Regions from separate parts of the Homo sapiens genome. Here region 1 is linked to region 2. Evidence: fine-mapped expression QTL. A gene starts in region 2. The other region holds a variant in brackets. All regions are shown on one strand. Distances are between the middles of the regions. Region 1 overlaps PITPNM2 (phosphatidylinositol transfer protein membrane associated 2). Region 2 holds the start of PITPNM2 (phosphatidylinositol transfer protein membrane associated 2).

What was found. PIP is the estimated chance that this variant, and not a neighbour inherited with it, causes the effect.
Region 1: its variant is fine-mapped to the expression of PITPNM2 in fibroblasts (GTEx, PIP above 0.99).

Annotation. Positions count from the first base shown.
Region 1 is chr12:123,116,772-123,132,450 of GRCh38, reverse strand. All of the region lies in intron 1 of PITPNM2 (phosphatidylinositol transfer protein membrane associated 2), which reads left to right. Among named protein-coding and RNA genes, the nearest start is that of PITPNM2, 26 kb to the left of the region's middle. RefSeq lists enhancers at 4,192-4,803, 12,398-13,211, 13,212-14,025. The variant C/T (reference allele first, on the strand shown) is at 8,328.
Region 2 is chr12:123,143,487-123,159,165 of GRCh38, reverse strand. PITPNM2 (phosphatidylinositol transfer protein membrane associated 2) reads left to right here and starts at 8,076. Exons shown (of 26, transcript NM_020845.3): 1 at 8,076-8,413. MPHOSPH9 (M-phase phosphoprotein 9) reads left to right here. Exons shown (of 24, transcript NM_022782.4): 24 at 2,258-4,951. The coding sequence ends at 2,359. RefSeq lists silencers at 7,693-7,892, 7,913-8,172, 8,193-8,332, 8,433-8,522.

The DNA of each region.
Region 1 (15,679 bases), 27 kb after region 2:
TGAGAACCTCCAGTGGCTCTCGGGGCTGGACCACACCTGGCCCTGTGTTTATGGAGCCCTGGCTTTCCCAGACACTGGGAGAGGCGACCCCACACCTGTGGCCCAGCTGAGAGCTCCTTGCTCAGCAGTGTACCCGCCATGCTCTTGGGGGAGTGGAGGTGGGTGTTCCTGGCAGTTAACGGCCATGTCTGGTCACTGCGTATGAATGACATCTGTCTCTGCAACGCTTGTGCACCTGACGTTGGGCATGTCCTTATATGGCTCTCGCTTGCTCTCAGTGAGTGGAAAGATAAATACCTTTTCAAAGAGCAGATGCCAACTGCCTGCGGTCCCTGGCATCCACAGCTGCAGAGCGAGTGGGAGACAGTTCTGTCGAGAGGCAGGTGCTTCAGTCCTGGGGGAATCGGGCACTGGGTGTGCTGAGAACCCAACAGGCCTCATGCAGACAGCCTGAATGTGGAGCAGGGTTCTGCCACGGACATGTTGTGGGATCCTGAGCAGGTCACATGCTTTCTCAGAGCTTCTCTTTCCTTCCTGCCTCTGGTTGGTCCTGAGGTTTAAAGGAGAATGTATGTGAAAGGGCCTAGCACAGTTCCTGGCACCTCCCAGAGCTTGACAGGCACTTGGATTCATCCTTGTGTCTGGCACATGTGATGATCCCTTCCAGTAAGCAGTCACAGTTGGCTGGGGGCTGCTTCTTCCATCAGGACCTAGCACAGACACAGGCTAGGAGCTGCTCTGGAAGGGCAGTGGAAGGTGTGGCTGGCTGGCAGGGTGAGGTTCTGTGACTGGGGCAAGAGTAAGGGTGATGTCCTGGAGGGATTCCAGATGGAACCAGACTCTCCCTCTGCCTCCTGGAGCCTCTGCTCCTAGGGCAAGCATGCAGGGGCTTGTGCACTACCATATCTCTGTGTTAATTCCCTAGGGCTGCCATAACAACCCACCACAACTGGATGGCTTAAAACAATGAAAATGTATTCTCTAACAGTACTGGAAGCCACACATCCAAATTTTGGGTTTCGGCAGTTTGGTTGCTTCTAGAGACCGCAACGAGTATCTGTTCCCGGCCTCCCTCCTAGCTGCTGGTGGTTGCAGGCCATTCTTGGCATTCCTTGACTTGAAGACACATAATTCCAACCTCTGCCTAAGTTGTCACATGGTTGTCTCCCTCTGTGTCTATCTGCCTCTGTGACTTTTCTCTTATAAGGACACCAGTCATTGGATTTAGGGCTCACTCTACTCCAGTGCAACCTCACCTTAACTAATGACATCTGCAGTGACCCTATTTCCAAGTAAAGTCACATTCTGAGTTTCTGACAAGGATATGAGTTTTGGGAGGACATTCTTCAACCCATATAATCTCCATATTTGTTGAATGAATGAATGAATGTGAAAGCCATCCTCACATGTCTGCTCAGGTGTATTGATGTAGAATAGAAGGTGGGGATGTCTCTGGTGCCCTAGGCATGTGAGGGTGGGGTGGGGGACAGCACCAGGATCATCCCCTTTTCCTGTCCAAGCCTCTCCTATTTCTGGCCTCTACACCCTAAGCTTAGCACCCTGGCCACCTCCTGACTCAGCCAGTTTTTCAGGTAGAAGCAATTACATTTATTACAGGGAAGGCTGTTCTCACCTTCCTTTCTGCCCAGCATCTCAAAACTCTTTTTTTTTGAGATGGAGTCTCGCTCTGTCACCCAGGCTGGAGTGCAGTGGTGCGATCTCGCCTCATTGCAAGCTCCGCCTCCTGGGTTCACGCCATTCTCCTGCCTCAGCCTCCTAAGTAACTGGGACTACAGGCGCCCGCCACCACGCCCGGCTAATTTTTTGTATTTTTAGTAGAGATGGGGTTTCACCATGTTAGCCAGGATGGTCTTGATCTCCTGACCTCGTGATCCGCCCGCCTCGGCCTCCCAAAGTGCTGGGATTACAGGCGTGATTGCCGGGCCAATCAAAGCTTTCTTTTGTTTCTCTTCCCCTTCCCCTTGGAGCCAAGAAGGACACAAGGATGGCTCGGTGGCCTTGGGCAAATGACCCTGCCCCCAACCTTAGCTTCTGTTTGCAAATGAAGGAGGCAGAGCTGGGTGTTTCCAAAGGTCTTTTGCATCTATAATTATCTCTACTGTTTTACTGCTGAGATAATTGTGGGCCAGGAAAGTGTGCCCTTCCGTCCCACACAAGGCAGGACTGAAATCCATAGGCCCTCATTTCCAGCCTGTCCCCAAATGCTCTGTGCCATCTCCTGGAAGCCCTCTGGGATTAGCATGATTCATATGTGGTTCCCTGGGGTCCTCACTGTGCCCTGTGTGTGACACATTAATTCACAAGTACTACTGGCCTGGGCGACTTATCGAGACCCCATCTCTGCAGAAAATTTTAAAAATTAGCTGGGTATGGTGGTGTGTACCTGTAGTCCCAGCACTTGGGAGGCCAAGGCGGGAGGATCACTTGAGCCCAGGAGTTTGTGGCTGCAGTGAGCTATGATCGTACCACTGCACTCCAGCTTGGGCAACAGAGCAAGACCTCATCTCAAAAAAAAAAAAACGCAAAACAAAATTCACAAGTACTAGCCTGCCATTCAGATGGTATGCAGGAGTGTGCATGTTCATGTGTGTGTGTTGTTTTCCCCGTGTTCCTCTCCCCTCTGTTTCCTCTGTAGGCAAGAACTCTATGCATTTTTCTGTGTCTCTGTGTTCCCCCAGTACAAGTACCCAGCACAGGACTCATTATGCTGGGTTGTGGGCCAGCCTCAGAAACATAAATATTAGGAGATCTACTAAAAGAAAAAAGAGAAAAATATACAAATAAAACAACTACTGTGCTTTCAGTTGATGCCAGAAAAGCATTTGATAAAGTTCACTATCCATTTAATTTTTTTTTTTTCTTGAGACGGAGTCTCTCTGTTGCCCAGGCTGGAGTGCAGTGGCGCAATCTCGGCTCACTGCAAGCTCCGCCTCCCGGGTTCACGCCATTCTTCTGCCTCAGCCTCCTGAGTAGCTGAGACTACAGGCACCCGCCACCATGCCCAGCTAATTTTTTTTGTATTTTTAGTAGAGATGGGGTTTCACCGTGTTAGCCAGGATGGTCTCGATCTCCTGACCTCGTGATCCGCCCGCCTCGGCCTCCCAAAGTGCTGGGATTACAGGCGTGAGCCACCACGCCCGGCCTATCCATTTAATTTTTTTAGAGACAGGACTCCCATGTTGCCCAGGCTGGCCTTGAACTCCTGGGCTTAAGGGATTCCCCTGCCTCAGCCTGCCGAGTAGTTGGGACTACAAGTGTGCGCCACCATGCCTAGCCTCATTACTCCTTTTTTTGAGATTGAGTTTCGCTTTTGTTGCCCAGGCTGGAGTGCAATGGCAGTGATCTTGGTTCACTGCAATCTCTGCCTCCCGGGTTCAAGCAATTCTTCTGCCTCAGCCTCCTGAGTAGCTGTAATTACAGGTGCCCACCACCACACCTGGCTAATTTTTGTATTTTTAGTAAAGACGGGATTTCGCCATGTTGGCCAGACTAATCTTGAACTCCTGACCTCAGGTGATACGCCCTCTTGGCCTCCCAAGTGCTGAGATTACAGGCGTGAGCCCACTGGCCCCAGCCTCATTAATCTTAAAAACGTAGAGACTGAGGGATAGGCAAATATTTCAACATGATAAAGAATATCTCCCATCGGTAGCTACTTTATCTTTTTTTTTTTTTTTTGATATCGAGTCTCACTGTATTGCCCAGGCTGGAGTGCAGTGGCGCGATCTTTGCTCACTGCAACCTCTGTCTCTGGGTTCAAATGATTCTCCTGCCTCAGTCTCCCGAGTAGCTGGGATTACAGACGTGTGCCACTATGGCCAGCTAATTTTTTGTATTTTTAGTAGAGGCGGGGTTTCAACATGTTAGCCAAGATGGTCTCGATCTTCTGACCTTGTGATTTGCCCCCCTCAGCCTCCCAAAGTGCTGAGATTACAGGCATGAGCCACTGCGCCTGCCCCCCCACCTTTTTTTTTTTTTTTTTTTAACTTGAGACGGGGTCTTGCTCTGTCACCCAGGCTGGAGTGCAGTGGCGTGATTTAGCTCACTGCAACCTCCACCTCCTGTGCTCAAGTGATTCTCCCACCTCAGCCTCCTAAGTAGCTGGGACTACAGGTGTGAGCCCGCTTTTTTTTTTTTTTTTTTTTTTTTTTTTTTTTTTTTTTTTGTAGAGATGGGGTTTCGCCATGTTTACTAGGCTGGTCTTGAATGCCTGAGCTTAAGTGATCCCCCTCGGCCTCCCAAAGTGGTAGGATTATAGGCATGAGCAACCGCACTCAGATACTTTATCCTTAATAGTCAAATGCTCTAGTAGCATTTTCCAAAGTATGTTTGAGGAACACAGAATGCTCCTGGGTATTGCATCAAAAAAGCATTCCAGGGCCAAATAACATCTAGGAAGCACTGTTGCTCTAAGACACATTCCTTTTAATGTCTGTTGCAAGACAAGCATGCCTTCTCTCTCTTTAGTACTGTTCTTTATTCTAGATTCAAGCCAATGCAACAGGCTAGGAAAAAGAGGCAGGCTGGGCGCGGTGGCTCATGCCTGTAATCCCAGCACTTTGGGAGGCCAAGGCGGGCGGATCACGAGGTCAGGAGATTGATACCATCCTGGCTAACGCGGTGAAACCCCGTCTCTACTAAAAATACAAAAAATTAGCCAGGCGTGGTGGCGGGCGCCTGTAGTCCCAGCTACTTGGGAGGCTGAGGCAGGAGAATGGCGTGAACCCGGGAGGCAGAGGTTGCCGTGAGCCGAGATCACGCCACTGCACTCCAGCCTGGGCGACAGAGCGAGACTCCGTCTCAAAAAAAAAAAAAAAAAGAAAGAAAAAGAGGCAGGGCATAACTCTCAGATAGGAGGTTGCAAAATGAATGTTTTGAGTGGATACAGCCGTTGTCTTAGGTTTTCAAAGTAGACAAACTCAAAATTAATTAGAATAAGACAGTATGGCAGCCTGTTGCAAAATAAGTAGGCAAACACCATTGTTTTTCTATGCGTCAGTGGAAACCATTGTTGAATTTGATGGGTAGGAGCACCTCTAACACCTGTTTGCTTGGGCATCAACACGCCAGTGACCTTATTTTCTGGTTAGAAACAAGAGTAACACCCGGACAGTTCAGGCAGCTGCCAGCACCTCCTGGGTCCCCTGCGACCTGGACTCCCAGGAAATGGAGGGCAGCGGTGTAAGTGGCGTGATGCAGGGTGTTCAGCATCTCTCAGTGGGGTTATTCTGAGGACTCTTCCAGAATGTTTTGAACACATTTGTGCACCATTAAGTCGTTGTCACAGAGCCTGGAAGTCCATTATTTCAAGCTCAACTCATCCTGGATGATGGATGTGACTTGAGGAGGGATGAACCATTCGTGCATTCTCCAAGGGCAGGGCTCTCAGAAATTCCCTGTAGCTTTGTGGTCCCTTGCCCTGGCATCCCCTAGACCACCATGCTGAGGGCAGTGTTTGGACGAGACCCCAGTGAACAGAGCCTGGTTGTTGGAAGTAAATCTTTTGCTCCTGCTGGAAACCAGAGAACAGACACTGCTTCATCACTGCTGTCATTCATGCAAGCTTCATCACATTTTCCCAGTCATTATCCTGATCTTTCTCAAAGGCAATTCTTGCCTCTCTTTCAATCAACAGAGAACCCTAGAGATAATTCAGTCTTTGAGGGATTGCTGAGTCATTCAGCTGACTGGGGCTACCATGATGAAGCTGAAGTTCCAATGTCATGAATCAGGCTGTTCTCGGAGGCCACGGAAGGGGTGGATGGATGTGTGTCTGCCAGCTGTCCCACAGGCTGAACCCATCATGCTGGCCATACTTCCTAAGTCATCCTCCCTCCTCCCTAGTTCTTTTTCTTTACTCACTCAGTGTGGTTTTGCTACTTTTAATTTTCTGCCTTATTTTAACCATAGTGGTTTGCATGACCACCAGAGGGGTCAGTGTGCAGTTCTCCTAGGACTAAAGCCCTCCAGCTTTGTGACAGCTTTTCGCCTGAAGCTTGGTGGTCTGATCTGCAAGTTGGCCCTCTTCTAAATGGTGGGAGTTGTAGTCAGCTTGCTTGCCAGACTGGATTGTGGAGAATAGTAGGGCAAGAGTGAGAGGTTAATAGGGCAAGAATTCCCAAGCTTACCCAAGGATATGCATCAATCCCTGCAGAACCCTTAGCAGTTATATTCAACTCACTGAAGGGTCTGCTTGGTTTTTAGATCTTCTTTCTGATTCTTTAGGGATATGAGGGTCACAGGATTAAAAGGTAGAGCCTAGGCTGGGCATGGTGGCTCAAGCCTGTAATCCCAGCACTTTGGGAGGCCGAGGCAGGCGGATCACAAGGTCAGAAGATTGAGACCATCCTGGCTAACACAGTGAAACCCTGTCTCTACTAAAAATACAAAAAATTAGCTGGGCGTGGTGGCGGGTGCCTGTAGTCCCAGCTACTCCGGAGGCTGAGACAGGAGAATGGCGTGAACCTGAGAGGCGGAGCTTGCAGTGAGCCGAGATCACGCCACTGCGCTCCAGCCTGGGTGACAGTGCGAGACTCCATCTCAAAAAAAAAAAAAAAAAAAAAAACCCTAATTTTTTTTTTTTTTTTTGAGACAGAGTCTCGCTCTGTCGCCCAGGCTGGAGTACAGTGGAGTAATCTCGGCTCACTGCAACCTCGGCCTCTGGGGTTCAAGCGATTCTCCTGCCTCAGCCTCCTGAGAGCTGGGATTACAGGTGCCTGCCACCACGCCCAGCTAATTTTTGTATTTTTAATAGAGACGGGGTTTCACCTTGTTGGTCAGGCTGGTCTCAAACTCCTGACCTCGTGATCCGCCCCCCTCGGCCTCCCAAAGTGCTGGGATTACAGGCGTGAGCCACAGCGCCTGGCCTGTACCATGCATTTTCTTTGCGTTCTGCTATTCCAAAAGAAATATTAAATATTGGCATTTTAAAACATAAAATAATTAGAATTGAAATTTTAAAAACTCTTGTTAAATCTGTAGCATCAACTTAAATGAACCATCAGTGGTGTGCATCATCCTTTGATATGACTGAGTCTGCTTTTTGTATCCAGATATCAATTATTTATTTGTTTTTGCTTCTACCTAACTTCTTCCTTCTCTAACAATTCAAGACTCACAATTTTCTAGGATTCAAAGAACATTGTTTTTTGAGTGCTTTAGAATCATTTACTCATTCATTCTTTCACTTACTAAAAAACATTTAACATTTGGGAGGTTGAGGTGGGCAGATTGCTTGAGCCCAGGAGTTTGAGACCAACCTGGGCAACATGGCAAGACCTCATCTCTACAAAAAAAATACAAAAATTAGCTGGGCATGGTGACACATGCCTGTAGTCCCAGCTACTTGGGAGGCTGAGGCAGGAGGATCAAGGGAGCCCAAGAGATCAAGGCTGCAGTGAGCTGTGATGTCACCGCTGCACTCCATCTGGACTACAGAGCGAGACTCTGTCTCAAAATAAAAAAAATTTTTTTAACGAAACATTGAAAAGGCTATGCATGATAGTGCACCAGACATTAGCAAGATTCTAAAGATAAATTAGATACATTCCTTATGGAACTTACAAACTCATAGATTACAGTTCAGTAATAAAATATAAAGATCATATATATTTTAAATATTATTTGGGTAAGTAAGTAATGCATTATACTTGGTACCGAAGTGAAAAGCAGCTACAGGCAAACATAAGACTTCTTGCCGGGTTGGGGGATGGGGGAGGGATAGCATTAGGAGATATACCTAATGTAAATGACGAGTTAATGGGTGTAGCACACCAACATGGCACATGTATACATATGTAACAAACCTGCACGTTGTGCATATACCCTAGAACTTAAAGTATAATAATAATAATAAAAAAGACTTCTTGCCACCCCTGTCTTCAATATCTTAGTTTTCCTTCCCAGAGACAGTGATGGTTGCTAGTTTTGTGTGTGTGTCCTCTTTCAGAGAGATTCTCTGTATATATTAATGTATATTACTTTTTAATTTTTTTTTTTGAGATGGAGTCTCGCTCTGTTGCCCAGGTTGGAGTGCAGTGGTGTGATCTTGGCTCACTGCAGCTTCCGTCTCATGGGTTCAAGTGATTCTCCTGCCTCAGTCTCCCAAGTAGCTGGAATTACAGGTGCACACCACCATGCCTGGCTAATATTTTGTATTTTTATTTTATTTTTTGAGACGGAGTCTCACTCTGTCGCCCAGGCTGGACTGCAGTGGCACAATCTCGGGCTCACTGCAACCTCCGCCTCCTGGGTCCAAGCGATTCTCCTGCCTCAGCCTCCCGAGTAGCTGGGGTTACAGGCATCTG[C/T]CACCACGCCAGGCTAATTTTTTTGTATTTTTAGTAGAGATAGGGTTTCACCGTGTTAGCCAGGGTGGTCTCGATCTCCTAACCTCATGATCTGCCCGCGTCGGCCTCCCAAAGTGGTGGGATTACAGGTGTGAGCCACTGTGCCTGGCCACTTTTTAAATTTTAAATTTTAATTTTTTTTTTTTTTTGAGGCAGAATCTTGCTCTGTTGCCCAGGGTAGAGTGCGGTGGTGCGATCTCCACTCACTACAACCTCTGCCTCCTGGGTTCAGGCGATTCTTGTGCCTCAGCCTCCCAAGTAGCTGCGATTACAGGAATGTCCCCCTACACCTGGCTAATTTTTGTATTTTTTAGTAGAGCCGGGGTTTTGTCATGTTGGCTAGACTGATCTCCAACTCCTGGCCTCAATTGATCCACCTGTCTCAGCCTCCCAAAGTGTGGGGATTATAGGCATGAGCCAATGCTCCCGGCCTAAAAATTTAATTTAATTTAATTTTTTTTTGTTTTTTTTGAGAGAGAGAGGGTTTGCTCTGTTACCCAGGCTAGAGAGCAGTGGTGTGATCATAGCTCACTGCAGCCTCAAACTCCTGGGCTCAAGCAGTCCTCCTGCCTCAGCCTCTTGAGTAGCTGGGACTAGAGGCACGTGCAACTGCACCTGGCTAATTTTTTTATTTTTGTAGACATGGAGTCTTGCTATGTTGGCTAGGCTGGTCTCAAACTCCTGGCTTCAAGCAGTCCTCTCACCTCGGCCTCCTAGAGTGTTGGGATTATAGGTGTGATCAACCTTGCCTGGCCTATATTACTTAAAAACAAAGCTAAACACAAATGGCTGCCTATTGTTGTGCATCTGCTTTTTTGACTTCACAATACATAAATCCTGCAGATGGTTCTCTGTTGGCTCATGTAGAGTTGTTCAGTTCTTGTAATGGTGGGCTTAGTATTCTGCTCATGGGTGGACCATCATGTGTTAAACCAGGTCCCTGTTGATGGGGTTTTAGATTGTAAGAGCAGAAGATGGGAAGCAAACAGTGCTGTAGCAGGCATCTCAATAAGTAGGTTTTCATGCAAATATACTCTCATGTCTGTAGAATAAATTTCCAGAAGTAGAATTGCTGGGTCAAGGAGTGTTTTTCTTTTATTTTTGTTAGCAATTGCTAAATTGCTCTCCATAAAGGTAGTACCAATTTACACTCCCACTTACAATGTGTGAGTGCGAGGCAGTGGTTTTCAACCTCAAAACCCCAGGCAAGGAAGAGCTTTTAAGTAAAATAAAAATCTGGAGAAAACTCCTTCTGTGTGAGAGCCTTTTCTACCGCAAAGGGCAGGCTGTAGGGTAGTTCCTGGCATAGCCAGTTAAGACTGTTCATTCCCATTAGCTGCCAGCTTGCACACGACTGAGGGGCTCTTGGGTTTTTGGATTCCTGTAGTCAGGTTGTGGTCTGGAAGATATGTTCCTGGTAAAGGGTGGGGGCAGCAGCTACCTTGCCCCTTCTCTGTCAGCTTGTTTACCACCGAGTATCTGAGAAACACCAGAAGCTAACCTTCAGGGAGGTTATGTTTTTGGGGGAGCTCAGATGTGACCAGGAGGCCTATCAACAGGCTTGCGACTTGGATTTCCCAGATCTGTAAGTTGACGTCATTTCTTTCTTTCTTCTTTTTTTTGGAGACGGAGCCTTGTTCTGTCACCCAGGTTGGAGTGCAATGACACGATCTTGGCTCACTGCAACCTCCGCCTCCCAGGTTCAAGCGATTCTCCTGCCTCAGCCTCCTGAGTAGCTGGGACTACAGGCGTGTGTCACCACGCCCGGCTAATTTTTGTATTTTAGTAGGGACGGGGTTTCACCATGTTGGCCAGGCTGGTCTCGAACTCCCGACCTCAGACGATCTGCCTGCCTTAGCCTCCTAAAGTGCTGGGATTACAGGCATGAGCCACCGCACCAGGCCAATTGACATCATTTCTAAAGAGATTCCCCAGGGAGCTGGGGGCAGGAGGAATGGAGAGTTAGTATTTGATAGGTACAGAGTTCAGTTTGGGAAGATGAAGAAGTTCTGGAGGTAGATGGCAGTGATGATTGTGCACTTAAAAATGGTTGACGTGTTAGATGGGCATGGCGGTGTGTGCCTGTAGTCCCAACTATAATACTTGTGAGGCTGAGGTGGGAGGATCACTTGAGCCTGGGAGGCAGACGTTGCAGTGAGCCAAGATCATGCCACTGTACTCCAGCCTGGGTGACAGAGCGAAACCCTGTTTCAAAAACAAACAAACAAAAGGTTGACATGGGCTGGGCATGGTAGTCCAAGCCTGTAATCTCAGGGACTCAAGAGGCAGAGGCGGGAGGATTGCTTGAGGCCAGGAGTTAGAGACCACCCTGGACAACATAGACCTTTCCTCTACTAAAAAAAAATTATGTTAAAGTCAGATGTAGTGGTGCGTGCCTGTAGTCCCACCTACTCAGGAGGCTGAGGCAGGAGGTTTGTTTGAGCCAGGAATTCAAGGTTGCAATGAGCTGTAATCATGCCCCTGCACTCCAGCCTGGATGACAGAGTGAGACCCTGTCTCAAAAAACAAATAAAATAAAATAAAAATAAAAAAGTTATTATGGTAATTGTTATGTTATGCGTATTTAACCACAAACACAAAAAAAGGTATAATTCACTGTAGCTATCATCTCATGAACAAAAGGAACACTAAGAAGTAGGAAAGATCTAAGAATAAAGAAACTAAGTGGAGCTTTTTGATTTTTGTTTGTTTGTTTTGACACACGGTCTTGTTCTGTTGCCCAGGCTGGAGGGCATGATCATGTCCTACTGCAGCCTCAAACTCCTGAGTTCAAGAGATCCTTCTATCTCGGCCTCGTAAAGTGTTGGGATCGCAGGTGTGTGCCACCATACCCCACCAAACTGGAGCTCTTTGAACAGCTTGGCCCATTAGCCATGTTCTCATTTCTCCTTGAACCGGTGAGAGCTTGGCCAGGCCTGGCGCTGACCTGCTCACTGGGGTTTGGGAGTCAGCAGAGAGGCCTCTGAGGGCTGGAGCCAGAGTCAGCTCCCCAGAGAAGGAGCCTGGGCTGGGCCTGCAGCAGCTGTGTGTTCTGAGAAGATTCTATTCTCTAACTTGGGAGACCTGGGGCTGTCTCATTTCTCTGTGTTTAAACAAGAAGTGTGTCTCTGGCCTGCTGCCGGATGTTTTGGAGGCTGGTTCAAGTGAAGCACCCAGTGATCTGGGTGTGGTCTTCGTTATGCTTTTCCATTTTCCCCAGGGGCTCAGATAACTTTTGCAAAAAGAGCAGGTGAGCAGAGCAGATGTTTGTTTAGAATGACATGGTGGCTCAGAGTAGGTGCTCAGAGAGGTTGTCCCTGCTGGGGCTGTGGTGTCTGACCAGCAGGGAGGAGCTTTGCAGAGGTATTGTGTGGCCTCTGCACAGCCATCCTGCCCTAAGGTGCTAGGTGTTGTACCAGCAAAGGTCATCATCCCAGACTGTAATTACTCTCAGGAAACATGTGCCACTACATCTCAGTGCCTTTAGAGGATGTGGATGTGAGCTCACTCTCACTGGCCAGGGTGTGACTGACAGTGAATTAGCTTTATGCCACATCTGGCTGAGGGCTCTGACTCTTCCATGATCCACTCTCCATATGAGAGGTCTGTGGTCATCACTCTACTTGCAGAGAGAAAGGCACTAGTCCTATAGAAGACCAAGGAACTCCTATGGCACTCTTGACAAGGAGGCTGCTGCCCTGGGCCAGTGCCTCCCAGCCAACCTGTGACTATTAGACCAGAATGCTGCTTAGACACCTGTTGTCTTACCCCTCCTTTCACAGCCAAAACACAGATTCCAGGAGGTGAGGGGCCGTCGAAGCTCACAGCCAGTTGGAGTCAAAACTGGCTCTTGAACCCAGTCCGTGAACTCAGGTCCTGAATGCTCTGGTTGGGGCATTTTAAATCTTAGAGGGTGTTAGTTATAAGGTGACCTTAAATCTGCGGGTTCATATTTGACAAAACCAAAGCCAGGCCTTTGCTGCAGGTGTGCCCTCAGAAAGCCCTTGTCGGCTATGCAGCAAAACCCCGGCAGGCCATACAGGCACCTGTGATGAGTTTCCCTTTGACTCACTGGTTGTCAAGTAGGTAACACGACTTCACCATACTCACAGGGCAGTATGGTTGCTGAGCTGACACAGCCTCCTCACGTGGGTGGCAAGCGTATGCTTCCCATTAAGAAAATTGCTACTTTTGAACGGGCTCCCAACAGAACTTTTTCTTGCTTACTAAAATTAAGAAAATAATAATAAAACAAGCCACTCAACACCCCAAACTCAAAAAAAAAAAAAGAAAGAAAAGAAAAAGAAGAAATATTTAGCATTGACCCAGAAAAAAAGCCTCTGTATTCAGCCTGATATTAGTACTCATGGAGCCACATGGATGGAACGAAGAAATTTTCATTTAGGTGTGATTAAGATCACATCCTCAGCCAGGCGCGGTGGCTCACGCCTGTAATCCCAGCACTTTGGGAGGCCGAGGCGGGCGGATCACGAGGTCAGGAGATCAAGACCATCCTGGCCAACACGGTGAAACCCTGTCTCTACTAAAAAATACAAAAAATTAGCCAGGCGTGGTGGCGGGTGCCTGTAGTCCCAGCTATTTGGGAGGCTGAGGCAGGAGAATGTTGTGAAGCTGGGAGGCGGAGCTTGCAGTGAGCCAAGATGGTTCCACTGCACTCCAGCCTGGGTGACAGAGCAAGACTCTGTCTCAAAAAAAAAAAAAAAAAAAATCACCATCCTCTATGCTTCTAGATAGAGCACAGCCTTTAGTTGTGCTACCTAATCCTTGTCCCTACCTCCCGAGCATGACAAAGCTTAGGCAGAAGCTGCTTCAAACACAAATGAACTGTGCTGAATTTTCCTCTGAGCATTCTCAGCAGTCCCAGGAGATCATTGGAGAAATCCCCCAGGTGGCCACAGAATCAGAGCTGTCTTGCTGCGTTAAGTCTTGTTGGATCACTTGAGTCCTGAAGAGGCCCTTGGTAAAGGGAATAGTTAGGCTATTGTCATCAACGCTGAGCCCAGATACATCTGGGAGTGGGAGCTGGAGATCTCTGCCCCTGACCTGCAGGTGACTAAAGCTGACAGTGGACACAGGCCACACGGACACAGCCGAGTGACACTGTTTCACGTCCCTGCAGCCTGGCCTCCATCAGCACTAAGGCACAGTATTTGCGGAAGGGCCATGTGTTCGACAATACTTACCATGTCCAGTAGCCAGATGGTCTAAACAACCCATCAGTGGTATGGTATGTAAATATTTTCCATCATTATCATGGTGCTGCCGTGTTGACATTAACGAGGATGAAGAATTACTCTGAGGAGCTCTCCGTTAAGAGCCAGTCAGGCCGCAGGCGGGGCTGCAAAGCTGTCCGTACACCCTGGAGGCTGACAGCTTTCCAGGCTAGCTTGGTTTCCTCTTGCTTCCTCCTCCCAGGCACAAATTCCCTCACACACTGGCCCCGTGGACATTCCCCTCAGAACTCTTCCCAAGCACAATGTCTGTTTCTCATCATGAACTAATGTTTTCCACTATTGGGAAGAGCTTTGTGACCCAGCATATTTCCCTCTTTGCTTTGCCTACCAGGAAGCACACAGCTAAGATTTTACTCATTTGCTTTTAGATTGTTCTCAATTTAGAGCCTTGATAGAGATTTTCTCCCTCCTGTTTGGTTGCTTTCTTTCTTTGCTCATCTCATGTTTGGTGGGAAAATGTGGTGAGCCTATGTTGTAAGGTTTTTGGAAGCAGGCAGTATGGATAGAGCTTGAGCAGGTTCCCATCATGATCGCAGAGTACAGAACTGGTCTGTATCCAATCTCCCTGAACTGTCACCTAGACTGGTAGTTCTAAGAAGGCTAAGATTAGACCTCAGCCTAATTCTCCTGTGTATCTCCTACATATCTGACAATTAGTATCAATTTGGTGAATGTATTAGTTAAGTAATGCTAACTGCTAGACAATTCTCTAGTCTCAGTGGCTTATCACAATAAAGGCTTATCCCCACTCTTGTCTTAGTTGAATTGCATGCTCTGTGAGTGGCCTCCATGTGGTGAATTGGGGACCCAGGATCCTTTCACACTGTGGCTCTCCCATCCCTTGGGGCTCCCCTGGAGTTCTCCAGTGAATCTGTGCAGTCAGCTGGCTGGTAAGCAGAGAAAGAGGGAGCATAGGAGATTGCATGGGGCATTCTGGGGGCCAGGCTTTGAAGTGGTGGACCTCCCCTACTCATATAACTAGTCCCGTAGCCTCACCTAGAGTCCAGGGGGCTAAACATATGATTTAGGGAGAGGAAATTGGACCATGCCAGAGTCTGTCATAGTGAGATATTGAACAATGAATGAACAAATCCATGAAGGGCACAGAGAGCAGAGCAGGGCTCCAGGGGCACACGTCTGAGGAGCCCAGTGAGCACTTCTGTCTGCCTTGCAAACCTAGATGCAAGTCATTGGACTTGATGCAGGGCTTTGGATTACAGGTCAGTATTCCCTTCTGTCCAAATCATAGGATTGTAGAATGTTGGAGCTGAACTGAGAACCCTTTCAGAGGTCATGAAGCCCAGCCTCCTCACTCTACAGATGGGGAAACAGAGGCCCAGTGAGCCGAGCTGACTTACCCAGAGTCAGCAGCCAGAACTCTGGTCTCAATCCCATGCCAATGATCACTTCACTGCACTCAGGGAATCCCATCCATATCTCTGTCCACAGTGTGCAAACCCCTGCTCTGCACAGATAGAGAGTCGTGTAATTAAGTGACAGCTTGAGTTGATCATCTGATGGCCAGCTTACTCCGTAGGATCACTGGAGAAATTCCCCAGCCTCACGACCGCTGTTTGAAACTCAGCACCGGCTTCATTTCAGCATTCACTCCATTGGGATATTGGGAGTGGAAGACTACTCTCTTCCTAAGACTCATTTAAGCACTAACGTCTCTCAGCAACTCTCATATGTGAGGATACAAAAGGTCTTCATGAGTCTTATGATGGAAGTAGAACTTCCTGCAAACCCGCTAGAGAGCTTGGCCACCATCAGTTACCTATTGCTGCTTAACAGAGTACGTCCAAACATAGTGATGCAAAATGCCATTTTATTTATTTGCTCACAGTGTGGCAATTTGGGCAGGGCCCAGTGGTAAGGTTAGCTCATCCCTGTGCCACTGGTGTCAGCTGGAACAACTTGACTACTTGGGGTGGGGGACCCATTGACAAGGTGGCTGGCTGCACTCCTGTGGCTGGTGAGATGGTACTGGTGCTTGGCTGTATCTGCTAGGGCTGCTGGCTGGAACATCCGTTCCCCTCCTCATCACCCGTTGGGCAA
Region 2 (15,679 bases):
AAAAAATACCTGCCAATGTGATCATTTTTTAAAAGGTGTGGGGTTGTCTTGGCTAATCTTTTATTTATCTAGTTTGGAGACGGAGTCTCGCTGTGTCACCAGGCTGGAGCGCAGTGACGCAATCTCGGCTCACTGCAGCCTCCAACTCCCTGGTTCAACTGATTCTCCTGCCTCAGCCTCCTGAGTAGCTGGGATTACAGGCACATGGGCCCGGCCTAATTCAAAGATATTTTGAGGCCGAGAACAGTGGCTCATGCCTGTAATCTCAGCACTTTGGGAGGCCAAGGTGGGCAGATCACTTGAGGTCAGGAGTTTGAGGCCGGCCTGGCCGATGTGGTGAAACCCTGTCTCTACTAAAAATACAAAAAAATTAGCCGGTTGTGGTGGTGTGCCTGCAATCTCAGCTACTTGGAGGCTGAGGCAGGAGGTTCACTTGAACCCAAGAGTTGGAGGTTGCAGTGAGCTGAGATTGCACCACTGCACTCCAGTCAGGGCAACAGAGTGAGACTGTGTCTCAAAAAAAAAAAAATTGAGATAGAGTTTGATTCTCTTCTTAGGTTTCTCTTTTAATTTTTTTGAGACAGGGTCTCATTCTGTCACTCAGGCTGGAGTGCATTGGCACAATCATAGCTCACTGTAGTCTTGACCTCTGAGGCCTCAGCCCCTTGAGTAAGCTAGGACTACAGGCATGCACCACCACACCTGGCTAATTTTTAAAATTTTTTTGTAGAGGCAGGGCCTTGCAGTGTTGCCCAGGGTGGTCTCGAACTCCTGGCCACAAGTGATTCTCCCACCTTGGTCTCCCAAAGTGCTGGGATTACAGGTGTAAGCCATCATGCTTGGCCTTATTTTTCTTTTAAAAATGATACACGGCTGGGTGCAGTGGTTCACGCCTGTAATCCCAGCACTTTGGGAGGCTGAGGTGGGCAGATCAGATCACCTGCAGTCAGGAGTTCAAGACCAGCTTGGCCAATATGGCGAAACCCTGTCTCTACTAAAAATATGAAAATGAGCCGGGCATGGTGGTGGGCACCTGTAATCCCAGCTACTTTTGAGGCTGAGGGAGGAGAATCGCTTGAACCTGGGAGGCAGAGGTTGCAGTGAGCTGAGATTGTGCCACTGCACTCCAGTCTGGGCAACAGAGCGAGACTCCGTCTCCCCCAACCAAAAAAAAAAAAATAAAATAAAAGTGGTATGCATATATATGTATGCAGAAAAAACAGGAAAGAGGAACAGTTTTTTTTTCTTTTTTGCTTATTTGTCTTCTAAATTTTCTATATTCTAAGTGTTCTATAATCCTTTTATAATTAAAGAAAAAAATTTTAAGTTTTATTTCAGGACACCATTGGAATTAATACTGAATAAATTAACTAAAATGAGGCTGGGTATAGTGGCTTATGCCTATAATCCCAGCACTTTGGGAGGCCGAGGTGGGTGGATCACTTGAGGCCAGGAGTTCGAGACCAGCCTGGGTGACATAGTGAGATCTTGTCTCTGCAAAAAAAAAAATGTTTAAAATCAGCCAGGTGTGGTGGTGCCTGCCTGTAGTTTCAGATACTCGAGAGGCTAAGGTGGAAGGATTGCTTGAGTCCAGGAGTTTGAGGCTGCAGTAAGCTATGATCATGCCATTGCAGTTCAGCTTTGGGTGACAGAGCAAGACCCTGTCTCAACAAAAACACAGAAGTATGTATAATGATATATAGTCCAGGTATTATTTAACAGTAATATTGTTTATTTTAAAATAGCAATTGTTAATTCATTGTGAAATCTATTTTTTTTTTTAAGAAAAGTATCCTTCAGTGTTTTTTTTTTTTCCTTTTTAACTTAGAAATTTTGGTGAGAAGAAAGTTATTTGATCTATGTATGTGTGGGATGCAGCACTGATCAAATGTGTCCATTTCTTCTGGTGAAATGTGTGAAGCACCTCCTAGGCTCCTCTTGTACTGTTCTCACTTCAGCAGAGCCAAAGAATTATCCTCTTCCAGTTGGTTGTATTGCTATTACTAGAATTTCCATATACTCAATGTGTCAAACATATTGAGAATATTTTAAAGTACAGCAGTTATTTGGAATAGTTGAAAAGCTAATTCATATTGTCCAGTTTAAAAGAAATCATAAGATGTTTCGTGTAGAAAGCAAAATAATTGTAATTTTAGTGTTTATACTTGCTCTTTTGCTAAAAGAAAGGTCAGTTTGGTGGTGATTATAGAACTTGGTATAGAATTCTAATTAAACTTTTCCCATTGTTTTCACCTAGGAAGCCTTGGAAGATCGTTTGGAAAGGATTAATCGAGAACTGGGTTCAGTTCGCATGACGCTAAAGAAATTCCATGTTTTGCGCACCTCTGCAAATCTTTGAGATTTGTAGCCATTAAATTTTGAGACATTTTTGTTTGCACTAATGTATAATTATGCAGTCAGAAAAGGCAAACTATTTTGTACTGTTTATAAGCCTTCAAACAGTAGTTTTACAATCATGCTATTCTTACACTTGCTATTTTATACTTCAAATGGCCACATATTTTCAAGATATTTTTGTTATGCTCAGGAATCTCTTGTATATTTTACTATTTAAAAAGCATTATTTTTAAATAGTATCTGTCTCCAATTTATATCAAGAATAAGGAAATATAAACAGAGGAAGCAGCTTGTTTCTAAACAAATAGTGTTATCCTTTTACAATTAACTGCACATCAATTTTATAGACTTGTTCTACATTGTAAATACAATTCAGTTTTTAAAAAATAAAGCTTAATAGCTTCCATAATGATAGACTAGTACATGCTGAATACATAAACAATTACAGTGTACCTTGGATTTCAGTTGTGTTGAGGTTTTTAAAAAATGATAATGCAATTCGTATTTGAAACGTGTCTTAGAGTGAATATCAGAATAGTAATAATGGACTCTTGGAAAGCTTTGAAAACTACATGAATATAACTCATTTTCTTTAAACTTTATTGTCTGTAAGAGAAAAAAGAGAGATTGTAATTCTCTAATTTTATCTTTTCTAAAAAAGTTAAACAATTGGAGAGCCCTCTCTGGAGGGCTCTCAGAGTAGCTCTCTGCCCATTGTTCTGAATTAACTTGTGTCCCACCCTGGACAATAAATGGACAGATAAACCCTTTGAAATACAAGCCACCACCCCGTGAGGGATTAAGAGGGCAGCCTGGTTTTCTTAGTGTGCATGGCTTCAGCTGTCCGTCATAGTTGTCATCTGGATATGTTCACCCCTTTCCACTCCTTCACCCTGGCCAAAAGGAAAATATTTCCACTGTAGGTGCTGTAAGAACACTAGACTTTAGATCATCACAATCTACTGTATTTGTTAATGGACAGGGAGTGTGTCCGGATGGAGCCTGGTGCCTTCCCCTCGGCCTTGCAGAGGGCTCCAGCCCACTGCCTCTGTGGTAGCCGCTGGCTCTCAGAAGTAGCACGTGGGCAGGAGTCTCTCCTCTGATCCAGGAGCATTGGCAGGTTTGTGTTGGGACTGCTGGTTAAGTTGGAGCTGTGTAACTACTTAGTTTTTGGTAGCCAATCAGAACGCAGTGCCCCACATATTCCAGCTCGGTACATGTTGATAAACAGACTCATCCAAACTTTCAAAATGGATTCGTACTAAACATGCTCAGGTTTTAAATTTTGGTTTGCTTTTGAGCTTTTCCTCTTTATGTGGCTCTTAATAATAAGTAGTTAGAATGAACCAAGCCATCCCAGTTATTCCAAGCAGGCTCTCAAATGACCTTTGAGCACCCTTCACCTGGCTGGTCCCCAGGCCAGGGGTCCACAGCCCTGCTCCCTTCTCAGCAAGGAGGGTGGCCTGTCTGACAGTGCAGTTGAACCTTTGCTCCCTACTCTGCAACTTTTGAAGACTTCAGGCTAATCAAAATTACTTATAATTAGAATCAAGTGCCTTTATTCTTGTTTTTTATTTTTATTTTATTTTATTTATTTATTTTTTTAGATGGAGTTTTGCCCTTGTTGCCCAGGCTGGAGTGCAATGGCATGATCTCAGCTCACTGCAACCTCTGCCTCCCGGGTTCAAGCGATTCTCCTGCCTCAGCCTGCTGGGTAGCTGGGATTACAGGCATCTGCCACCACGCCCGGCTAATTTTGTGTGTGTGTATATGTCTATGTGTGTGTGTGTATGTATATATCTTTTTTTTTTTTTTAGTAGAGATGGTGTTTCACCATATTGGCCAGGCTGGTCTCAAACTCCTGAACTCATGTGATCCGCCTGCCTTGGCCCCTCAAAGTGCTGGGATTACAGGCATGAGCCACCACACCCGGCCTATTCTTGGTATTCTTTATTCTTGGTTTTCTAGCCTTTAGAAAAAAAAAATCTAGTCTTGGTAAAGAAAATGTTCATTTTAATCAAGCTCCAGTACAGCTTGTGTCAAGACCTAGTAAGACCACCTTTAATGTGTTCCTGGATATGACATTAAAAACTAACTTGAAAATTGTTAGGATATTTCCTTGTTCCCTACTTTTATTGTAAAATCTACTACATTCTTAAGAATTAAAAAATGCCATTTCAGAAGAGATGATAGTTTTATCTTGCCAAGGAATTATCTTCTTAGTAGCCTATATTGGCTTATTCCAAAAAAGGCGTTAACCTCCATCAAAACATCTTCTGCGCCTCTCTCTCAGCATATGCTTTGATATTTGAAGTGTGTAATAGATTGGAGCTATCAGTCACTTATTTCTAAAAAATGTATTCTTTTTTCTTCATAGCTGTGAAGAGGGATACCAAGGAAAGTTCTTTCTGCTGTCTTTCTCTTCGGTAATGCTTATCTTATGAACACTCAACTGAAAAAACACTCCACCTAAAAGCAGGAAAGATGGCAATTCTAAATAGCAGCTATTATCCCCGGGTATAAACTATTTTTGTTGTTGGCTTGGGGCTTTGCTGCAGGTATTAATAGTTTAAAAAGAAAAAAAAAAAAAAAACCCTAAGCAAATCTGCCACCTCTGGGAAGTGCCTTTTAAAATGCAAATAGAAAGTGAACTCTCCCCTGATGCCTGGATCTGCCCCCTTCCTTTCCCTTGCTAAGCCTCTGTTTGCAGGAGCTACTCCTGAGGTATGGAAATGGTCTTTGCAACTGAAGGACTTTTCCAACTGAAGCAACAGATGTAGCTAAAGTGGCCGTGCTAGGGTTGTGCAGAGCTGGGCTCAGGGGACAAGAAAGGAGAGACTTGGAGCCAGAGAGACCTGGGTCACATCCTGGCACAGGCCTGCCTTTCTCAGCTATAAGATGAAATAAGAAAACTCCTTTCATTAAGGGAGATTTTGTAAAGTGCCTGGTGCTTAGTAAGTGCTCAAGAAATATTATATTTCAGATTCATTGAGTTAAGTAGGTTTTTGAGGTAGCATCCTTTTTTTTTTTTTTTTTTTTTTTTGAGATGGAGTCTCTAGTTCTGTTGCCCAGGCTGGAGTGCAGTGGTGTGATACTGGCTCACTGCAACCTGTCTCCTGGGTTCAAGCTATTCTCCTGCCTCAGCCTCCCGTGTAGGTGGGATTACAGGTGCATACCACGCCTGGTTAATTTTTGTATTTTCGGTAGAGACGGGGTTCTCACCATGTTGGCCATCCTGGTCTTGAACTTCTGACCCCAAATGATCTGCCTGCCTTGGCCTCCCATAGTGTTGGGATTACAGGCGTGAGCCACTGCGCCCAGCCTTGAGGTAGCATACTTTCTGAAATAAAAAAGTAGATTATGTCCGAAGCAGTTGACCTAAAAACTGCCTTGGACTGACATTTGTTAGGTGGTCTAAGATGTTCTCTTCACGCTTTGCAAAAAAATGAGCTTTTTTGGAGTTTAAATTAAGCATCCCTCTGGTGTGTTTGGTTTTTTAGCCACCAAAAATTTAACAAATTTGATAACCTGTCACGTGTAAGTTCAGAAAGCACTTTGGTCTTAATTGGTGACTTGGGGGTTATTTGGTATAAATATAGGTTGTTTTTCTAAAAATTATTGCCAGTATCCTCCAAATAATTGCCCCTTCAAATGTTTCATCTAAAGGTGACAGCTTGTGGGCAGAACCATGCACAGGAAGTGCCTGCCAGTGGGTGTTAGGAGATGTAGGTGGAGTCTGTGATAGCCAACCAAAAGCTATCCCCTTCTCGCCCAGAAAAGCCACGTGCTTTGCTGGACGCTACTTGAAATCTGAACTCTGCACCTACATATGTAGTAAAATTAGACACTTTTGTCACTTTAATTTTTAGATTATCTCAAGTTTTCACTAGATTTCAATGTGCCACTTGTGCTATGAGTCTTTAAGAAGCTTTAAAAAATAAATGCACACCTGTAGCCTTTTACCATTCAGACAGGTAGATTATATTTACCTGTCATGAGGGACCATGTATGGTTGACAGTTGCAGGTTTGATTAAATCCACTATATTGCACAAATTTTGCTGGAAATAATTTCCTGCCCTGCCAAGAGCTCTATGGTAGTTTGATAATAAACTACTACCCCAGTATTCTTAGGAACTGTGTTACTAAGTCTTTTCTGCCTGATTTGTACTTTATTTCCATAGACCCCTCAGATATGTGAGGAATCAAGCCATAAATGTGCATTTGCTGGACATTATGTACCATGTCATCTCTATGACTACAGATTTCAAGGATAATTTTTACATCTAACAATTTCACTGTAACAGTGACCGATAATGTGAGAAATGTGCTTTTTACAGTGCTGCTGGTGGGTAGACAAGTGCTTGCTGCAGTTGTTTCTGAATCTAGCCAGATGCTGGAGTCGTGAAGCTGTAAGCTCCGCGGGAGCAGGGACCATCTCTCTTTCTTGCACTACAGGCACTCAATAAATACTTGTGGCTGTGAACTGGCGTGTGGCCTTTGTGTGTTTATTTCTGCTAGCTGGCTGCAGGAGCGGGTTGTTGGTGATTTTAAGTCCCAGGCATAGAGAAGTCCTTGAGTTATGGGTTAAGGGGCGTCCATCCAGGAGCACAGTTCCCGTTGGGACTCTGTGGGCTCCGCAGATCTTTCTGGATGGATCCTAGGGCACCTCTTGGTGGAGGGAAGGAGCTGAAGCGTTCTAGGTGATGGTGGTACGCCTTGGTCCTCCTCTGCGTGGTCATGGTCAGGGGCACCTGGAGGCGAGTCGGGAACGATGGCCTTCCTGGCCCGTTCAGTTGGGTTCTGCCGTGACCCCAGGAGGTGAGCAGCTGTCAGGGGCTCGGCCTCCCCGGCTTCATCTGGAGTCATCTAGGCCGCCTTAATTTTAGCTTGTCCTCTCTCCTCCAGGGGAGCACCGCCGTCTCCTCAGCCTTATAAGGTGACAAGTAGGGATGGGTCACACATCACTAAGTTTTAGGTGTGCTCTCTTTAGTTCCATGACTTCAGATTTTGCCAAACAAGTCCACCCTGGCTCAACCTAACAAACACCTCATGTTTTTAAGGAATGTCACCAGGCGCTCCCCCACCGGGGGCTCTTCCCATTGGAGAGCCCTGTCGTGCCAGATCATCCGGATTAAACTGTTCGTGATCCTCTTCCAGCTACTCCCTGAGGTGGGGACCGGGACGGCTGCGCTCCCGGCTCTGCCGTTCCCTGGGCCGCGGCCCGGGCGTCCTGAGGGGAGAGCGCGGACCCACCGTGTGGCGAGCACCGCGCCCGGGGCTGGGCTTCGGTGAGCTGCCCGCTGCGCTCTGCCCTCCCTGGTTTACCATTTCGCTCCTAAGAAACTTCATTTTTTAAAATGAGGCTGTTTTAAGAGTCACAGTGGCCGCAAGTCGGCCGGTTCCCGCCCCCGAGTGCGCTCGGCTGCTGCGGACGGTGGGCGAGGAGCCCGGGGCGGGGATCCGCGCCGCCGCCCCCGAGTCCAGTCCCGGGCCCTGAGGACACGGGCGAGCCGGGGAGGAGCGGGGTCGCCGCGGCAGGTCTGAGGAACCAGGCGGGCTGCCCGAGTCGGAGAGGTTTCTTCCGGCGGAGGCGGCGGGGCCGGGCCGAGACTCCGCAGGGACGCGCCCCCGCCGCCGCCGCCGCCGCTCCCCCGCGCGGCCTGAGGAGGCGCCGCCGCCACTGAGGGAATGCGAGCCCGGCCCGGCGCGCGCGGGCAGCAGCGGCCGCTGGGGTGCGCGGGGCACCGCGGCGCCGCGGCGTAGAGCTGTCCAGCCGGCCCCGGCCGCCCGCCCGGCGCTTCCTTCTCAGCTCGCGGCCGCCTCAGCGAGAGCCGCCCGCCAGCACGTGCGCCGCCGCCGCCCGCCTGCGACGCTCGGGAGCAATGCCCGCCGGGGCTCTGCCGCTCGCCCGGGGCCAGCAGGCGGCGGGGGCGCGCGGGGCGCAGCCGGCCGGGCCGGGGCCGCGGGGCGGGCGCTCCCCGTGAGGCGGCGTGAGGTGGCGGCGGCCCAGCCGGGGCCCCGAAGAGGACAGAGCCCGCGGCCGCGCCGAGCGGGGTGAGTGCGTCCGGGCGGCCGCTCCGCAGGCCCGCGGTGAGTCCCGCAGTGCCGGGCGCTGGCCGGGGACCTGGGGATCTGGGCGGCGGCTCCCAGAGAGGCCCCGGCCCGCCCGCCCGCCGAGCCTCCAGCCCGCCGGGGGCTGGAGGAGGGAGCGGAGACCCGGGCAGGGAGGAGGGTGTGGCGTACGGGAGCCCCGCTCGGGAGACCGCCCGAGCCTGGCCTCAGTGAGTCGCCGGCCCTGGATCCGTGCCCGAAACGCTGATTTCCGAATTTCCGTCGGTCGCGACCGCGTGGGGGACCCCCGCCAGGGACAAGTGTCATAGCGGTCGGGGGGCAGGCGTGGGCAGTGCCGGTGCCAGGGCGAGGAAGGGGCTATCGGGAGGAAGCGGAGGTGAGCCCCCGGCCCGCCTTCTCTGCTTCCCGCCTCCAGCTGAACGTCCCCAGGCCCGGGCCGTGGCCTCTGCTTGTCGGGGGCCCAGGGTTGGGGTGTGGCCCGTCTCCATCCTCAGTGCCCCCTTCGTGTGGTAATGGGGTGCCGGCTCTGTCTTCTTCCCACCCCGAATCCTTTCTTATCCGTGGCAGGGCTGATCGGGGGGCCTTGGGGAGAGGGAAAGTTCAGTGTCCCCCGCCCCAGTGTGCACTGCCTCCCCGCAAGAAATCCCAAACGGCCACTCCAGGTGAACATAGTGCGCGCGGTGCAAATGTCATTTCAAGGCAAGTCCTCCAGGCTTGTCCCCTTTCCACCGACTTGCTCCTGCAGAGACATCCTGCACTCCTCTCCCTCCCACTGAAGTGTGGGCTGGGTGCCTCTCCAAACACCCCGGCCTACCTGCCTCCCCCACCCAGAGTCGGGATTCTTCAAAGGAGACCTCACTGGAACATCTGTCTTTGTCCACAACCAGCTCTCTCCCCGGCCTCCACCTGGGAGTGACCAGAGCTGCTAGGATAGACCCCCCACTTCTGGAGGGAAGGCAGTAAGTGCTCCCCTTCATCTGAATCTCCCCTAACATCCATCCCCCAGACTCCTCTCTGCTCTGAACTCCCACTGCCTGCTATCTGTATCTCCTGTGTAACTCTTATCACCGTCTGCCTTATTTTATAGTTACTTTTCCATCTGCCTTATCTCCCCTGCTGGACGGTGAGCTCCCGGGCTGGAGTTGATTCATCTCTGGTCTCCTGCCCTGGTCAGTACCCTGCGTGGAGTCAGTGTCTCCGTGGAGCAGAAGGCCCCTCCAACGCTTGCCTCTGGGACCATAGCTTGTCTGATTCCTGGACTGTTGCTGTTAAATTACTTTCCTTCCATGAAGGGACTGTATTCTGTGGTTGGAATGGACTTCCAGCCCTCTCCCACTGCAGAGAGAAACACAATGAGTTAGGAAGGGCTGTTTTTCTTGTAAGGAGTGGCTTGCCAAGTGAACAGGACAGTACATCCTCTGCCCTGAAGATGGCCAGGCAAAGACTCCAGATTCTCTGGGTAGTGAGTGTTGAATGGGCCATTCTCTCTCCTGGTCTTCCCCAGCTGCTCAGGCGTGGGAGGCAGCAGGGGAGAGAAGTGGACTGCGGGAGTCGAGAGACTGGGGTTCCAGGCCTGGCTTTTCCCATAACTTGCTACAGGAGCTTAACTAAGTCACTTGGTTTCTCTTGGTTTTGGTTGCACCTTATGGAATCTGAAAGAATTCCTCTGCGTATCTAAGGCCCCCTGGGATCTGGGTCCTGTCTACCTTTTCTGCCTCCTCTCCTACCATTTCATTCATACCCTAAGCTGCAGTCCTCTCAGGCTACCTAGAGGCTTTCAAAGGCATGGTGCTCCCATGCCCTCCCTCTCCCCAGGTGCCTTCAACTCTTCACTGGTTGAGACCCAGTCTTGGCCTTCGCAGGTGGAATTGGTCCCTCTTCTGATTTTCGAACCACCCTAGTCTGATTTGCTTGCCACACAGAATGGCCCTTATCTGTTTACACGTGCCCCCCACTAGACTGTGAGCTCCTGGGCGGTTAGTGCTGTATCACGTTTCTCTGCATCCCCAATGCTTTGCTGCACAGTAAGGTACTTAGGAAAATAGTGAGAGGGTTGGCCTAGATCACCACTGAGAGCCCTTCTTGTCCAGAGTTGATTGCTTATACATTCTCTGTTATGGGGACCCGTTGCCTTCCTCCGTGTCTAGAGGCCTGTTTTAACACCAAGCAGATAGATGCTCTCCTAACCAGCCCATCTAGTTAAAGTCTTTCCAACTTGGTCTTCGAGAAGACCAGTCATAGAGGATGTGCAGTTATCTGTAGAGATTAGCAGAGGAAACGTCTGGTACTTTGAGATCACTGCCTTGCTGTTTTTGGAAAAAATGCCAGGGCCGTGTGCTCTTTAATGTAAGCGTAGTGGTATTGCTCCAGTGTCTTTGGCCATGGGCAGGAGGAGCCACTGCTTATGACCGCAGAGTCAATCCAAAATGAGCCATTGTACGCCAGTTCTCAACTTCGCTTAGATGAGATCAATCCCTTTGCAGATAGTCACCCTGAAAGCTGCTTAACAGGACTCCCTGCCTCCAAACACAGATGCGGCTAAGTGGTCTTTGCACAGCTTCTCTGTAGGTCATTTGGTTGATGTTTATTAAGCTTTTACTGGTACCCTGGAATGTTATCAAATAGAGCCATGGCAAATCCTCATCTGGTTTACTCTAAAACCATAATCTGAGGCATTTTCCCCTTTCTAAAGGCTTCTTACAGTGACCCATATTAAAATTTTCTTTTAGAATTTAGGGCCAGGCAAACTTTGCCTTCCCGCAGGAAACTAGGTTGCTTTCTCCTTTGATAATGAAAAGGAAAGTGGGGAAGGAAAACACGTTTTGTTTGTATACTATGCACCATGCAGTGTGCTTGGGCCTCCCTGACACACTGTGCAGGGTAGGTTGTATTCTTCCCCTTTTTCCCAGAGAAAGAAGTTAAGACACACAGAGAGGTCAACTAACTTGCCCAAGTTTCCCTGGATTTGCACTCAGTTCTGCTTCTTTGCCACACTATGTGTGGCTCTTTCTATACCACACTGTCTTTCCAACTGATTATGTTTCTCCTCTTCTCCTTGGCTTCCAGGCTGCTCAGCACACAATGTGATATTCTGTCTAGCAACTATATTACCCTCAACATCAGCATATTTATTGCTGCTTTCCTGAACTGTCTCTTTTTCTGTGTGTGTGTTTATGTATAAATCTCTCTATATATATTCTTTATAAAGTCATCACAAAAGGCTTCTGGAAAACTGTATGGATAAGTGAATTAAATATAGTAAGTAACATTGCTAGCTGGGCGTGGTGGTGTGCGCCTGTAGCTGAGATGGGAGGATCCCTTTAGCCTAGGAGTTTCAGGCTGCAGTGAGTTATGATTGTGCCACTGCACTCCAGCCTGGGCAGCAGAGTGAGAAAAGAAAAAATAAATAAAAATAAAAAGGTAACATTGTACCTAACACACTAACTCACAGTGTGGTTAGGGAGATGAGTCCATGGGGAACAAAGGGTATGTGTGATAAGAGTTGTTGAAGGTAGAGTTCAGAGGAGGAGATGCCCTTTCTGGGTAAGGCAGTCAGGGTTGACTTCCTGAAAGAAGTGGGACTTGAAGGGGGCTTGAAGAATGGGTAGTTTTGATAGTCCACAGCAACTGTAAAGGTGTGTAGGACTTAGAGTCTAAAATCTCTGGTCATCACAATGGCCCTGCAGAACAGGTCTTCTGGTGGGAAAGGAGAGAATTGGTCCAGATATTAAAGTGGGGAACCTGGTGATGCCTTTTTCAAATCCTCTGTATCTTTGATGGAGGGTCCCAGAAGACTGGAGCTGGGAGGGCCTGCACCCTGTTGAGGATGAGAGGCAGAGGCTGGCAGAATAGAAGTGATTTGCACAAGACCTCTCTTCTAGCCTGGAACCCAAGTCCCTGATTACCGGTTTAATGCTCTTTTTTAAAAGTGACAGCCCTGTACATGGGTCCTTGTTTCCTGTGAAATGAGTATGGAGCATTGACCTCCTCACGCCCAACCTAGCAACACCAGGACAAACCTCTGCTAAACATTTATGGTCAAAGACACGACGAGTGCTGTTAGGAGGGGCAGGCTGGCATTTGCTTACTCTTTTTTTTTTTTAAACTTTTATTGTATTTTTTAAAAATTATTATTATTTTTAGATGGAATTTCGCTCTTGTTGCCCAGGCTGCAGTGCAATGATGTGATCTTGGCTCACTGCAACCTCTGCCTCCCAGATTCAAGCGATTCTCCTGCCTCAGCCTCCTGGGTAGCTGGGATTACAGGCGCCCACCACCACACCGGGCTAATTTTTGTATTTTTAGTAGAGATGGGTTTTGCCATGTTGGCCAGGCTGGTCTCGAACTCCTGACCTCCAGTGATCCGCCCACCTTGGCCTCCCAAAGTGCTGGTATTACAGACATGAGCCACCACGCCCAGCTGTTAACTTTTAAGTTCAGGGGTACAAGCACAGGTTTGTTGTGTCGGTAGACTTGTGTCATGAGGGCTTGTTATACAGATCATTTCATCACTCAGGTACTAAACCTAGTACCCATTAGTTATTTTTCCTGATCCTCTCCCTCCTCCCACCCTCCACCCTCCAATAAGTCCCAGTGTGTGTTACCCCCCTCTATGTGTCCGTGTGTTCTCACCTTTAGCTCCCACTTATAAGTAAGAACTTGTGGTGTTTGGTTTTCTGTTCTTTCATTAGTTTGCTAAGAATAATGGCCTCCAGTTTCATCCATGTTCCTGCAAAGGACATGATCTCATTCTTTTTTATGACTGTATAGTATTCTATACTATGTGTATATATACCACATTTTCTTTTCCAGTCTACCATTGATGGGGCATTTAGGTTGATTCCATGTCTTTGCTATTGTGAATAGTGCTGCAATGAACATACGTGTGCCTGTATCTTTATGATAGAACGATATTTTTAGTAGAGACGACGTCTTGCTATGTTGCCCAGACTGGTCTGGAACTCCCAGGTTCAAGCAGTCCTCTTGAGGTGTGAGCCATTGTGGCTGGCCAAATTACTTATATTAACAACTGCCCTTGCTAGAGGACACAAAGGAGATTAACCAACAGGCAGGTTTCCGGTAACAGACAAATCAAAAACCCAAGACAACCTTGGAGAGAGAGCATGGAAAAATCAGTTTCACACTCTCCTTGTTGAAGTTCCCCATTCTTCATAAAGCTTTTCCTTGAGTGCCATTGCCTCTGAAGTCCCTTATCTCTATTGTGGAAAGGGGTCTTATTAAGACCTGGCTAGTCAGAAAGATCAGAGGTCATGATCAGGGACGTCAGCGGGAGTCATGGGTCCAGGGAAAAGGCAGAGTGTTATCAGAGCAGCAGCAGGACCCAAGAGACCTCAAGGCTGATTCCAGCCTTGGAGCAGAAGCTGACAGCTCAAACTCCCTATTGGGTGTGGACATGCCAACCTGCAGCCTTAGGAGCACATGAATGTAGGGTGGAATAGCTCTGTCTGAGGAAAGTATATCCTGACTATGCATACATGTATGCATAGTTATTTGATTCATATTGTTGGCCATAGTTAGGTTCTTCTTTTTTTATTTTTTGTGACAGGGTCTCTCTCTGTCTCCCAGGCTGGAGTGCAGTGGTGCAATCATTGCTCACTGCAGCTTCAAACTCCTGGGCCCAATGATCCTCCTGCCTCAGCCTCCTGAGTAGCTGGGACTACAGACTTGTGCACCACGCTGGCTAACATAGTTATGTTCTATAAAGTCCCTCTTCAAACACTGAGTTAGTGAACACTGAACCACTGCTCCTAGGGAAAACACAGGGTTAGGCTCCTTTGAGCCTGCGGGGACAATATTTTCTTTAACCAATCCATATGTAATCTTATTTTATATATGTTTCTGTTAAAAGAGATCGGGCATGGTGGCTCATGCCTATAATCCCAGCACTTTGGGAGGCCGAGGCGGGTGGATTACCTGAGGTCAGGAGTTCGAGACCAGACTGGCCAACATGGTGAAACCCTGTGTCTACTAAAAATACAAAAATTGGCTGGGCACAGTGGCTCATGCCTGTAATCCTAGCACTTTGGGAGGCCGAGGTGGGCAGATAATGAGGTCAAGAGATCGAGACCATCCTGGCCAACATGGTGAAACCCCATCTCTACTAAAAATACAAAAATTAGCTGGGTTTGGTGGTGTCCATCTGTAATCCCAGCTACTCAGGAGGCTAAGGCAGGAGAATTGCTTGAACCCAGGAGGTGGAGGTTGCAGTGAGCCGAGATCGTGCCCCTGCACTCTGGCCTGGCGACAGAGTGAGACTCTGTCTCAAAACAACAACAAAAAAGACACCCTATTTAATATGTATCATTGATTCATTAACATTAAACTCCTGGCCATCAACACTGTGACTCATGTCTGAATGAAGCTTCTCTAACACAAGAGATTTTCTCTGCACATCATAATCATCTTGCACCCAAGAACTAGACTGCACCTCAGCACTGTGATTGGGGGCCATTCCAAACAGCAAAATCACCAACACAAAGCACACAAGTGCCAAAAATGTGGCACTGCACAGACCACAAAAAGGACACGTGTTTCCATTAGGAGAGCTGAGATGGGAAGATAGAGGATGTCCCCTCGTTCAACCTCAGCAGGGAATGTGCCATCAGGCAACTCAAATTTTTTGCCAATTTGCACAAATTTGAAAATGAATTTGAAAGCACCATGAGCATTGATTTTGGGGTTACAGATAAATTTTAGTGACTAGGGTAATTCACAAATATGGAATCCATGGATAGTGAGGATCTGCCACCTTTGGCATCATGTCAGCCCCCACGGTGTATCCAGCCTAGCTCAGGGCACCTCACAATGCTGATGGTACTTAATGGATGAAGACTGGAGCTGCGGGATGAGGCTGTGGGCAGATTCTTGTGTTTGCTTGTCTTAGGTGCTACAGAAAGACAAGCTGTCCTCCCTCAGCCCTGCTGTAGCTTCTTCTAGAAGGGCTGCTGCCAGCAGAATGGTGCCCATCTCTCTCTGCTCAAGTCTACAGGTAGGAGGGACCCTGTACTTTCATGCAGTGGGTTCTGGCGGCAGCCCTGCAATAGACTTGGCCTTTCTTAGGAGCTGAGACCAATCCTTCTCCCAAAGGAATAATCCTCTTACGGAGGTGTTTCAGGCCAAGATGGGGGGTTCCTGGGGCCCCCATGCCTCAAATTGTGGCCTTCTTATGCCTGGGCTCTCTCAGAGGAAGCTTTCCCAAGTCTTTTGCCTGTTGTGTGCCCTCTTAAG